Homo sapiens: one gene and its partner. The protein of the gene in region 2 interacts with the protein of the main gene of each other region in a biochemical or structural test. Each region holds a gene or a part of one and is shown on either strand. Other genes may lie near its edges.

What was found.
Region 1: of the proteins of HMGN1 (region 2) and PRKACG, one has a biochemical effect on the other in vitro, tested with the Homo sapiens proteins (one study listed by BioGRID).

The regions. Positions count from the first base shown.
Region 1 is NC_000009.12:69,011,872-69,016,088, reverse strand, and holds PRKACG (cAMP-dependent protein kinase catalytic subunit gamma), read left to right. Parts: upstream 1-1,975; 5' UTR 1,976-1,996; coding exon 1,997-3,052; 3' UTR 3,053-3,585; downstream 3,586-4,217. UniProt on the Homo sapiens protein: Phosphorylates a large number of substrates in the cytoplasm and the nucleus.
Region 2 is NC_000021.9:39,345,929-39,350,891, reverse strand, and holds the start of HMGN1 (non-histone chromosomal protein HMG-14), read left to right. Parts: upstream 1-1,803; 5' UTR 1,804-1,974; coding exon 1,975-1,989; intron 1,990-2,286; exon of another isoform or gene 2,287-2,314; coding exon 2,315-2,347; intron 2,348-2,438; exon of another isoform or gene 2,439-2,440; coding exon 2,441-2,470; intron 2,471-2,552; coding exon 2,553-2,600; intron 2,601-2,949; exon of another isoform or gene 2,950-3,513; intron 3,514-3,599; exon of another isoform or gene 3,600-4,963. UniProt on the Homo sapiens protein: Binds to the inner side of the nucleosomal DNA thus altering the interaction between the DNA and the histone octamer. May be involved in the process which maintains transcribable genes in a unique chromatin conformation.

The DNA of each region.
Region 1 (4,217 bases), on a different chromosome or scaffold from region 2:
TCTTCTTCCTCTCTAACCTGACCGTCTCTGAATATACAGTCAGTACCCAAGTACTGGCCCCAGATTAAACCGTAAACTCGGAACCAGGCCTTGCACACAATAGACACCTGCTTGACCAACATCTGCTGAACTGAGCGGCAAGAATTCACAGTCACAATAGAAACCTTCTACTTGGAGTCAAGTAATCAGGGATTCCTCTCCAATTTGCTTGGTTTCAGCCTGCAGGGCTAGGTGAAAGTGTGTTGTTTACTTGCACTAGCTACAGGCGGTGTAGCCAGGGTGGGTAGGCAGAATTAGCTGTCAAACTTAAAGGGCAAGATGGAGAGAAAATAGGAGGATAAATGGGTATTCCTGTAGCTCAGTGTTTATGATGTAGGACAGAATCTTTGTACAGAATTGACTGGGGAGAGCAGCTCAGAACCCACCCTGTGATGGCTGAGTGCTGGCAGTCTTCTGGAGGGTGTGTGGGGCGGCTGACATGGTGGCCTGGGGGAGTGATGGAAGGCCCATCATCTATGTACTTTGACTTCTCATAAACTCCTGTGGCATGTTTTTAATAATTGATAGAATAAGTAAACAGAAAGTCAATAAGAATATAGAAGACCTGAACACTACTACTAGCCAACTTGACCTAAGTGACATTTGTAGAACACTGTATCCTCAAACAGCAGAATACACCAGAATATACATTCTTCTCAAGTGCATATGGGCCATCTACCAAGATAGATCATATTCTGGGCCATAAAATGAGCCCCAAGAAGTGTAAAACATTTTAGGTCACACAGAGTATGTTTTCTAACAATGGAATTAAATCAGAAATCAATAGGAAAATTCTTGAAAAATCCCCAAGTATTTGGAAACGAAATAATATACTTTTAAATAGCTTATCTGTCAAAGAAGATGAAAAGGGAGCTTAGAAAATATTTTGAGCTGGATGAAAAGGAAAATACAACATACCAAAATTTGTGGGATGCTGCAAAAAATAATACTTAGGAGGAAATTTATAGCACTAAGTGATTGTAATAGAAGAAAGATTTCAAATCAGTGACCTTAGTTCCCACCTTAGGAAATAAGAGCAATTAAACCCAAAGCAAACAGAAGAAAGGAAATCATATGTATGTGTTAAAATAAAACATTACATGCAGTAAAACTGAATTTTGGGGGGAAGTATACAGTTCTTTGAGGTGTTTGTTTGTTTGTTTGTTTGTTTTTGAGATGGAGTTTCACTCTTATTGCCCAGGCTGGTGTGCAGTGGCACGATCTCTGCTCACTGCAACCTCTGCCTCCCAGGTTCAAGCAATTCTCCTGCCTCAGCCTCCCGAGTAGCTGGGATTACAGGCATGCGCCACCACGCCTGGCTAATTTTTTTGTATTTTTAGTAGAGACGGGGTTTCACTATGGTGGTCAGGCTGGTTTCGAACTCCTGACCTTGTGATCCGCCCGCCTCGGCCTCCCAAAGTGTTGGGATTACAGGCTTTAGCCACTGCGCCCGGCCAGTTCTATGAGTTTTAAAACAAATGTAGACCACCACCCAATACATTGTAACCACCAGCACAATCAGGATACAAACATGTCCCACCACTTCCCACATTCCCTCAGGCTGTCCCTTCATAGTCCAACCGTCCCCTAACCCCAAGCCCTGGCAATCACTGATCTGTTCTCTCACACTATAGTTTTGCCTTTTCTGGAATGTCATAGAAATGGATTCATACAGTAAGTCTCCTTTAGAGTTGGCTTCTCTCACTTGCATAATGCCTTTTGGATTTATCCATATTGTTGAGTGCAGCGGCGTGATCTTGGCTCACTGAAGCCTTGACCTCCCAGGCTCAAGAAATCCTCCCATCTCAGCCTCCCATGTAGCTGGGAATATAAGCGGAGGCCGGGCGGGGGTCGCAGCGCCGCAGCCAGCGCAGCCAGCCCCAGGGGGCGCCATCTCCGCCGCTGCCGCCGCCGCCGCCGCCGCCGCGAGACCCCCGCCCCTGCCGCCGCCACCGCCATGGGCAACGCCCCCGCCAAGAAGGACACCGAGCAGGAGGAGAGCGTGAACGAGTTCCTAGCCAAAGCCAGAGGAGATTTCCTCTACAGATGGGGAAACCCCGCTCAAAACACCGCCAGCTCGGATCAGTTCGAACGGCTCAGGACGCTGGGCATGGGCTCCTTCGGGCGGGTGATGCTGGTGAGGCACCAGGAGACCGGCGGCCACTACGCCATGAAGATCCTCAACAAGCAGAAGGTGGTGAAGATGAAGCAGGTCGAGCACATACTGAACGAGAAGCGCATCCTGCAGGCGATCGACTTTCCGTTCCTCGTCAAGCTCCAGTTCTCCTTTAAGGACAACTCCTACCTGTACCTGGTGATGGAGTACGTGCCGGGTGGGGAGATGTTCTCCCGCCTACAGCGCGTCGGAAGGTTTAGCGAGCCCCATGCCTGTTTCTATGCCGCCCAGGTCGTCCTGGCCGTCCAGTACCTACACTCGCTCGACCTCATCCACCGCGACCTGAAGCCCGAGAATCTCCTCATCGACCAGCAGGGCTACCTGCAGGTGACGGACTTCGGTTTCGCCAAGCGCGTGAAGGGCCGCACTTGGACCTTGTGCGGGACCCCAGAGTACCTGGCCCCCGAGATCATCCTGAGCAAAGGCTACAACAAGGCCGTGGACTGGTGGGCCCTAGGGGTGCTCATCTATGAGATGGCCGTGGGCTTCCCACCCTTCTACGCCGACCAGCCCATCCAGATCTACGAGAAGATCGTCTCTGGGAGGGTGCGGTTTCCCTCCAAACTCAGCTCTGACCTCAAGCATCTGCTGCGGAGCCTGCTGCAGGTGGACCTCACCAAGCGCTTCGGAAACCTCAGGAACGGGGTTGGCGACATCAAGAACCACAAGTGGTTCGCCACAACCAGCTGGATCGCCATCTATGAGAAGAAGGTGGAAGCTCCCTTCATCCCGAAGTACACAGGCCCTGGGGATGCCAGTAACTTTGACGACTACGAGGAGGAAGAGCTCCGGATCTCCATCAATGAGAAGTGTGCCAAGGAGTTTTCTGAGTTTTAGGGGTGTGCTTGTGCCCCTGTGGGTTTTCTTTCCTTTTTGTTTTTGGTGGTTTGGGGGATGGGAGGGTTGGATTGAACAGCCAGAGGGCCCCAGAGTTCCTTGTATCTAATTTCATCCTCACCCCACCCTCCAGGGTTGGGGGAGCAGGAAGCCCAGATATTTGGAGGAACAGAAACACCAGCTGCTCCCTCACCCCCCCCCATGCCTTCCTGGTCCCTCTGTGCTTCTCTCTTTCTCCTCCCACAGGGTCCCCCTTGCCCCAGCCCCCTTCTGCCTGTTTTAAACGAGTTTCTCAGCTCTATTCAGGCCAGGTCTTGCTGTTGTATCAAGGGACACGGTGTGGAAAGAGGGGCTCAAACTTAACTCCAGCCCTGAACAGGCACCACTTACTAAGAGAGGATGAATGAAAAGCACACCTACCCTTTGGCGTAATCCTGCCTGGGAAGGAGAGAGGTTTAGTGCCATGTTCAGTGGGCTGTTTGCTAGAATAAAAAATTAAAACAAAAAACAATTAAAATCTTATTTAAGTTCCACCAGTGTCCCCTTTCCTCCTTCCTCTACTTCCACCCCTCCCACCCTTCCCACCTTACCGTGTCTCCCCATTCCATTTTAACAAATCCAGGAAGCCGACTGACTTTGGAAGGAGGCTCTGGGGTTTGAACTTCCCCCATGAACTGCTGATTTCCCCCTCCCCCCTCCCCAGGGGCATCCTCTATCACTCTTGCAAAGGTCTCAGTTCTTTTAGGAAGCTCCACTCTCTTCTTCCCCAGCAGACTTTTCTTCACCCTTGGGCTTTGGGAGCCAGAAAAGCAGCTGCCCTACTCCCTGCCAAAGAGGAGTTGTCCCCCAAAAAGACAGAGTGGGAGTTCCAAGCCCAAGTCTTTCTTCACAGCAGCATTTCCCCGAAACTCCTTAATTTTATTCTCAGCCAGATTGTGATGCCCAGCCTCTCCTTATGGGAAGGCAGTCCTGCAAAAGGACATGGAAGAGGCCCAGCCCCTCCACCCCCACCTCATCGCCCAGGGTTCAAGGCTAGGGTTGCTGGGGAGGGGCTGCCTGTTTTATTCACCCAGCAGCTTCTGCCTTCTCCCATCCTGGGTGCCCCTCTCCAGCTTAGCTGTCAGCCATCCTTCACCTCTTCTCCCCTGCCACCCCGTGCTGTTTT
Region 2 (4,963 bases):
ACTGCCAAATAGTTTTTCATTTGAGTTCTGGCTGCTCCATTTGTTTGTGTTGGCAACTTAAAAAAAACTAGGCCAAATAAAACATCTGTGGACCATCAGTTGTCACCTCTGGCCTAGCGCATCTTCGGTTCTTATGGGAGAAAGTTCTTTATGAGGTAAGTCCAAAAGCATAGAGTTCGCTTGCTTAAGACCTTGCAGTATCCCTCAATCTTTGGATAATGATCGAACTTCATGACGGGCTGCTCTTCTTTTTTTCTGCCTCTTTTCCCTGATCTTTACGTCCATTTTTCGTATCTCCATCCCTGCCACTTTAAAGGTCTTGGTGGGCTGCCACACTCTAGCAAGTCAGCATGCCTTGAAATATGCTGACCCCCCCTGCCGATGGCTTCCCCTTTCTTTACTAGGCCAATTGGGTACTTTCTCTCCCCACTAAATTACTAGACCCAGTGCTTGGGATACAAACCTGGATTCTCTCTACCCCAGGGACTTCACGGTGCCTGCCACAGGGCAGGTGCTCAGTACATGCTTGTGCCACAAACTTGGGTACTCTCTGATGTTGAATTTTTTTAAGGTAATCCATGCAGATAGGAAAGTGAAAAAAAATTACACACGAGAAAAGGGAAATTTTACCCTCAATCTTCCCACTTTTCCCCAGAGGCAACCGCTGGTACCACTTCCTTGTGTATTCTTCCTGAGATATATATGGAATGTATAAGGATATATATTCAATCAATGCTATGGAGAAAAAAAAACAGCCCTCTGGGGGTCCGCGAGTGCTGGAGACGGTCGCGCACGGCTCTCAGGAGCTGCAATCTGAGAGCTGCCCTACTCTGGGCCCAGAAACGACCCTCGTGCACCTGCAGTCCTCCAGGGAAATCTGAAGAAAGTTCCACAGCTTGGATCCCCAGCACTTTGGGAGGCCGAGGCGGGAGGATCGCTTGAGCCCAGGAGTCGGAGACCATGCTGTGCAACATAGTGAAACCCCCTCTCTACAAAAAATACAAAAGTTAGCTGGGCAAAATGGTGCCCTGTGGTCCCAGCTACTCGGGAGGCCGGAGTGGGAGGTTCGCTGGAGCCGAAGGGGTCGAGGCTGCAATGAGCCGTGATCGCACCACTGCACTCCAGCCTGGACGACACAACGAGACCCTGTCTCAAATAAAAGGAAGGAAGGAAGGAAGTTACACAGAAAGGCCGCGTCGGCTCTCCTTCCCACGCCCTCCTGCAGCGCCTGCGCACCAGGGCCCGCTTCACGCAGGCCTGCGAAGCTGGAGCCCCTGGATAGCCTTTCTTGCCGACAGAGGCGGGAGAAATTTGCTACTTCCTGTATACCTTATCCTTCTCCCTTCCCAGTCTAAGATACGAACTATAAATGTTCGAACCCAATTCACCCCGGAGGGGAGGGGCCAGATACCAGTGGCCTGAAGGCGCCCAGGTATCCAGAAGAATTGTGGGTGGGGACCCGCGGTCCCGTGACGTGCGTCCGCCAATCAGCGCGCAGACCGCACTTTGCGGCTCGGCTTCAAACTACCGTGAGGCCGGAGCGCCACTGGGACCCCGCCCCCTTCGCCTGGGTCTGGGGCCCCGCGAGACGGCGGAAAGGGGTGGGGGCGCCCGGGGGGGGGGGGGGGGCCCCCGGAAGGGGGCGGGGTCCGGGATCAATTAAGGGCCCGCCTCACCTATTCCGGGCGCGGGCTGAGTCCCGTAGCCAATGGGCGGGGGTGGGGGGCGGCCCGGCCGGCGGGGAGGGGGAGCCCGCGGCCGGGGACGCGGGGGGAGGAGGAGGCGGGCTCCCAATCCGGTTCCATCCGGTTCTCCCACCGCCCCCGCTGTGGGTCTCAGCAGCTCGGGCGGCGGGAGGAGTGGCAGCGGCAAGGCAGCCCAGTTTCGCGAAGGCTGTCGGCGCGCCGCGGCCCGCAGGCACCCGGCACGCGCCTTCCCCGCAGGCACCCGGCACGCGCCTTCCCCGCCGCCACGATGCCCAAGAGGAAGGTGAGCGGCGGCCGCGGCCCGCACACGCCCCCTGGAGCCGCCGCCGGCGCCCCGCCGGGCCCCGCGAGGCCCAGGCCCCGTTGCACCCACGGTGGCGACGGGCCCGGGAGGCGCTTGGAGACCGGCGGGCGGGCAGGCGAGCGCTCGGCGGCCGCGGGGGCGGGCGTTCTGGAACGTTTGGCGGCCGGGGGAGCTGAGGGGGCTATTCGAACGGGGCGGCGGGAAGCCGTGACGTCACGCGGCCGGGCATTGTTCTCGGGGCCGGGCGGGCCCGCGAGTCCTGGGACTGCGGCCCGCCTCTATTCGTGCGTCTCCGTCTCCGCAGGTCAGCTCCGCCGAAGGCGCCGCCAAGGAAGAGGTGAGTGCGGGCCTTCTGCGGGGGGTGGTGGGTTTCCCGTGAGCCGCTGGCCTGCCTTCTCTTCTCGCTGACTCTCCTTTTTCTTTCTCCAAGCCCAAGAGGAGATCGGCGCGGTTGTCAGCTGTAAGTAAAGCGAGCCCCGTAACCGTTCGTTTTCCGCGGGTCGTCCCGGGTGAGGACGCTCAGTGCTGCTTTTGCCTTTCAGAAACCTCCTGCAAAAGTGGAAGCGAAGCCGAAAAAGGCAGCAGCGAAGGTAAGCCTCGAAACGCGCATTGGGATGCAGCGGGGCCTTAGGCTACACTGCTTCTTAATGCGGGGCTTCCATTTTGATTAGCTATTGGAGCTTTATTTATACTTTAATAATTACGGTAAATAATTTTTCTAGTGGTCGAGGCAAAAATGTAATGGATATATTCATCCTGGTTTATAGAACTATATCACACTAATGCTGCTGCAGATGTTAGGAGACTTAGGACGACAAAAAATATTAAATATTAAGTCTACAAAGGAAATTTATTCTTTGCGTTGCGTACATTGTGGCTGGTGCTTGGCTTTTAATTCGTGCTTGTACTTCCTTTTTTGACAATAAAAGAGTCAAGATAGCACCGAGGCCAGGAGAAAGGGAACGTGTAAGTTTTTATATATACAGTTTCCAAGCCAACTTCGGGAAGCCTTAACCTTTTTACGGGGTGGGGGTGGGGAGGTAAAAAGTTGTGATCTCTGAGAAAATAACCGCCACTACTCTGGAAGTGTTCATCAGCAGTTATACAAAACCGTGATTTTGGCTGCTCCCTAACAAATTCGTGATTGCATGATTCGAATTGCAGGTCTGTAGAATGAAGTTGGCTTTGGGTGTACGTGTGTTTGATAACTTGCAGGGTGGAAAAGCAGAACATGTGTAAAACAAGTATAAGCTTTGTGTTTGGATATAGCATTGAAACCTGTAAAGCTCTACATGTTCTTCGCGGGGTGATTAATTTTTATCCAAAACTTAGGTGAGAGTTTGCTATTTGAAGTCTCAAAAAAAATTTTTGTTAATGCCTTCACCTCTTTCCTAAAAGTGTAGGTAGAAGTTTAGCACTGCAGTCATCAGAAGAGGCAAGATTAATTTCCTTGACATTGAGGAGTTGTTGGATAATTACTAAATTTGTCCTTGTTAAATAAAGGTATAAAACAAAGATGTTTTTTCTTTTTTAATTTAAATTTTTTACAGAGCTGAGTGTAAAAATGTTAACTATGTTTTCTTTAACAGAAAGTTCTGTTTTTGTGATCCTTTTAAAAATAAAGCTTCACGGAAGGTATGAGAATAGTATTTTTCAACTTTAAATTTCTCATTACCAGAAGACCATGTGGTAATTCTCTGTATACAGTTAGAACAGCACGGAAACTTGAAGGCCTAAAAAATTAGCTGACCTTGTTAAAAATGTTGGCGTGAGCAGTATATTATTACCTATCTTTTTTTATTGTGTGTGTGTGTGTGTGTGTGTTTTAAACTAATTGGCTGAAATATCTGCCTGTTTCCCTCTTTACATTTTTCTTGTTTCTTTCCTTATTTATCTTTGTCCATCTTGAGATCTACTGTAAAGTGAATTTTTTAATGAAAACAGTTCCAAGTTTTACTCTCAGTGGGTTTGGGACATCAGATGTAATTGAGAGGCCAACAGGTAAGTCTTCATGTCAGTGTTTGTTGAGGAACGAGCCTATGAGGTCAGTTTTCCCAAAAGGAAAAAGGGCAGAAGGGATTTGTTCATTTTTACATCTCGTTTCTGTAATACACCTTTGACTTCATGGTTGATCAGACTTTGAAGTCTAAACAGAACGTAAGCACTTGGTGTATCGATTATCATACTACACAGTAGACATGTTTTCAAGGCATATCTTGTCACTGTGTGTGCTTCTGACTTGTATCTTTCCCTAGAACTAAATATTTTGAAGGTCCAAACATTATACTTTGGGAAACTTGATTGATTTTTTTTTAATCTAGCTTTTCAGCTGATAATGGTTACACGTGGTATTATTTCAAGTCCAAGATATTATGTATTCTATTTTAACTGTTTCCCAGTTTTGTATTTTTTGTATTGGAATGATTATGAAATTAATGAGAAATCTTTAGAAACAGACTACAAAAGAGTAGTTCTTAAATACAGAAGTGATTGTGAAACTTTGTGATAGCAATGTGTGTAGTAGCAGTTTTGTCTCAAATACATTTATCATTTGTTACTCAAAGGATGTTGAAGTATTAAAAGTCATTATGCTGTCTGTGGAATCCTACTATTAGTACAGAACACCCTGCAGTGATTTTTCCGCCCGTGTTAGCATTGAAGTTGTGAGCTCTACTTGCTTGTCTTTATGGCCCTTTAATTCAAGTAATTGGTCAGTATCCGTATGGGTCTTTTATACCACCCGCTGGGGGCTAAACTAATTTAGCTGCTGCTGTATACTTACTAACAAGGAATAAATGTTAAGCTTTCTTCTCAGTATTGATGGATGGTATCTAAAAGTATTTTTATGTTTCTTTAACATGGCTTAAATTTTGAACTTAATGTATCAAGTTAGTATGGTCATATTAATACCTGTGCTTTTCAGATTCTTCAAACACCTAAATGAAAGTGATAA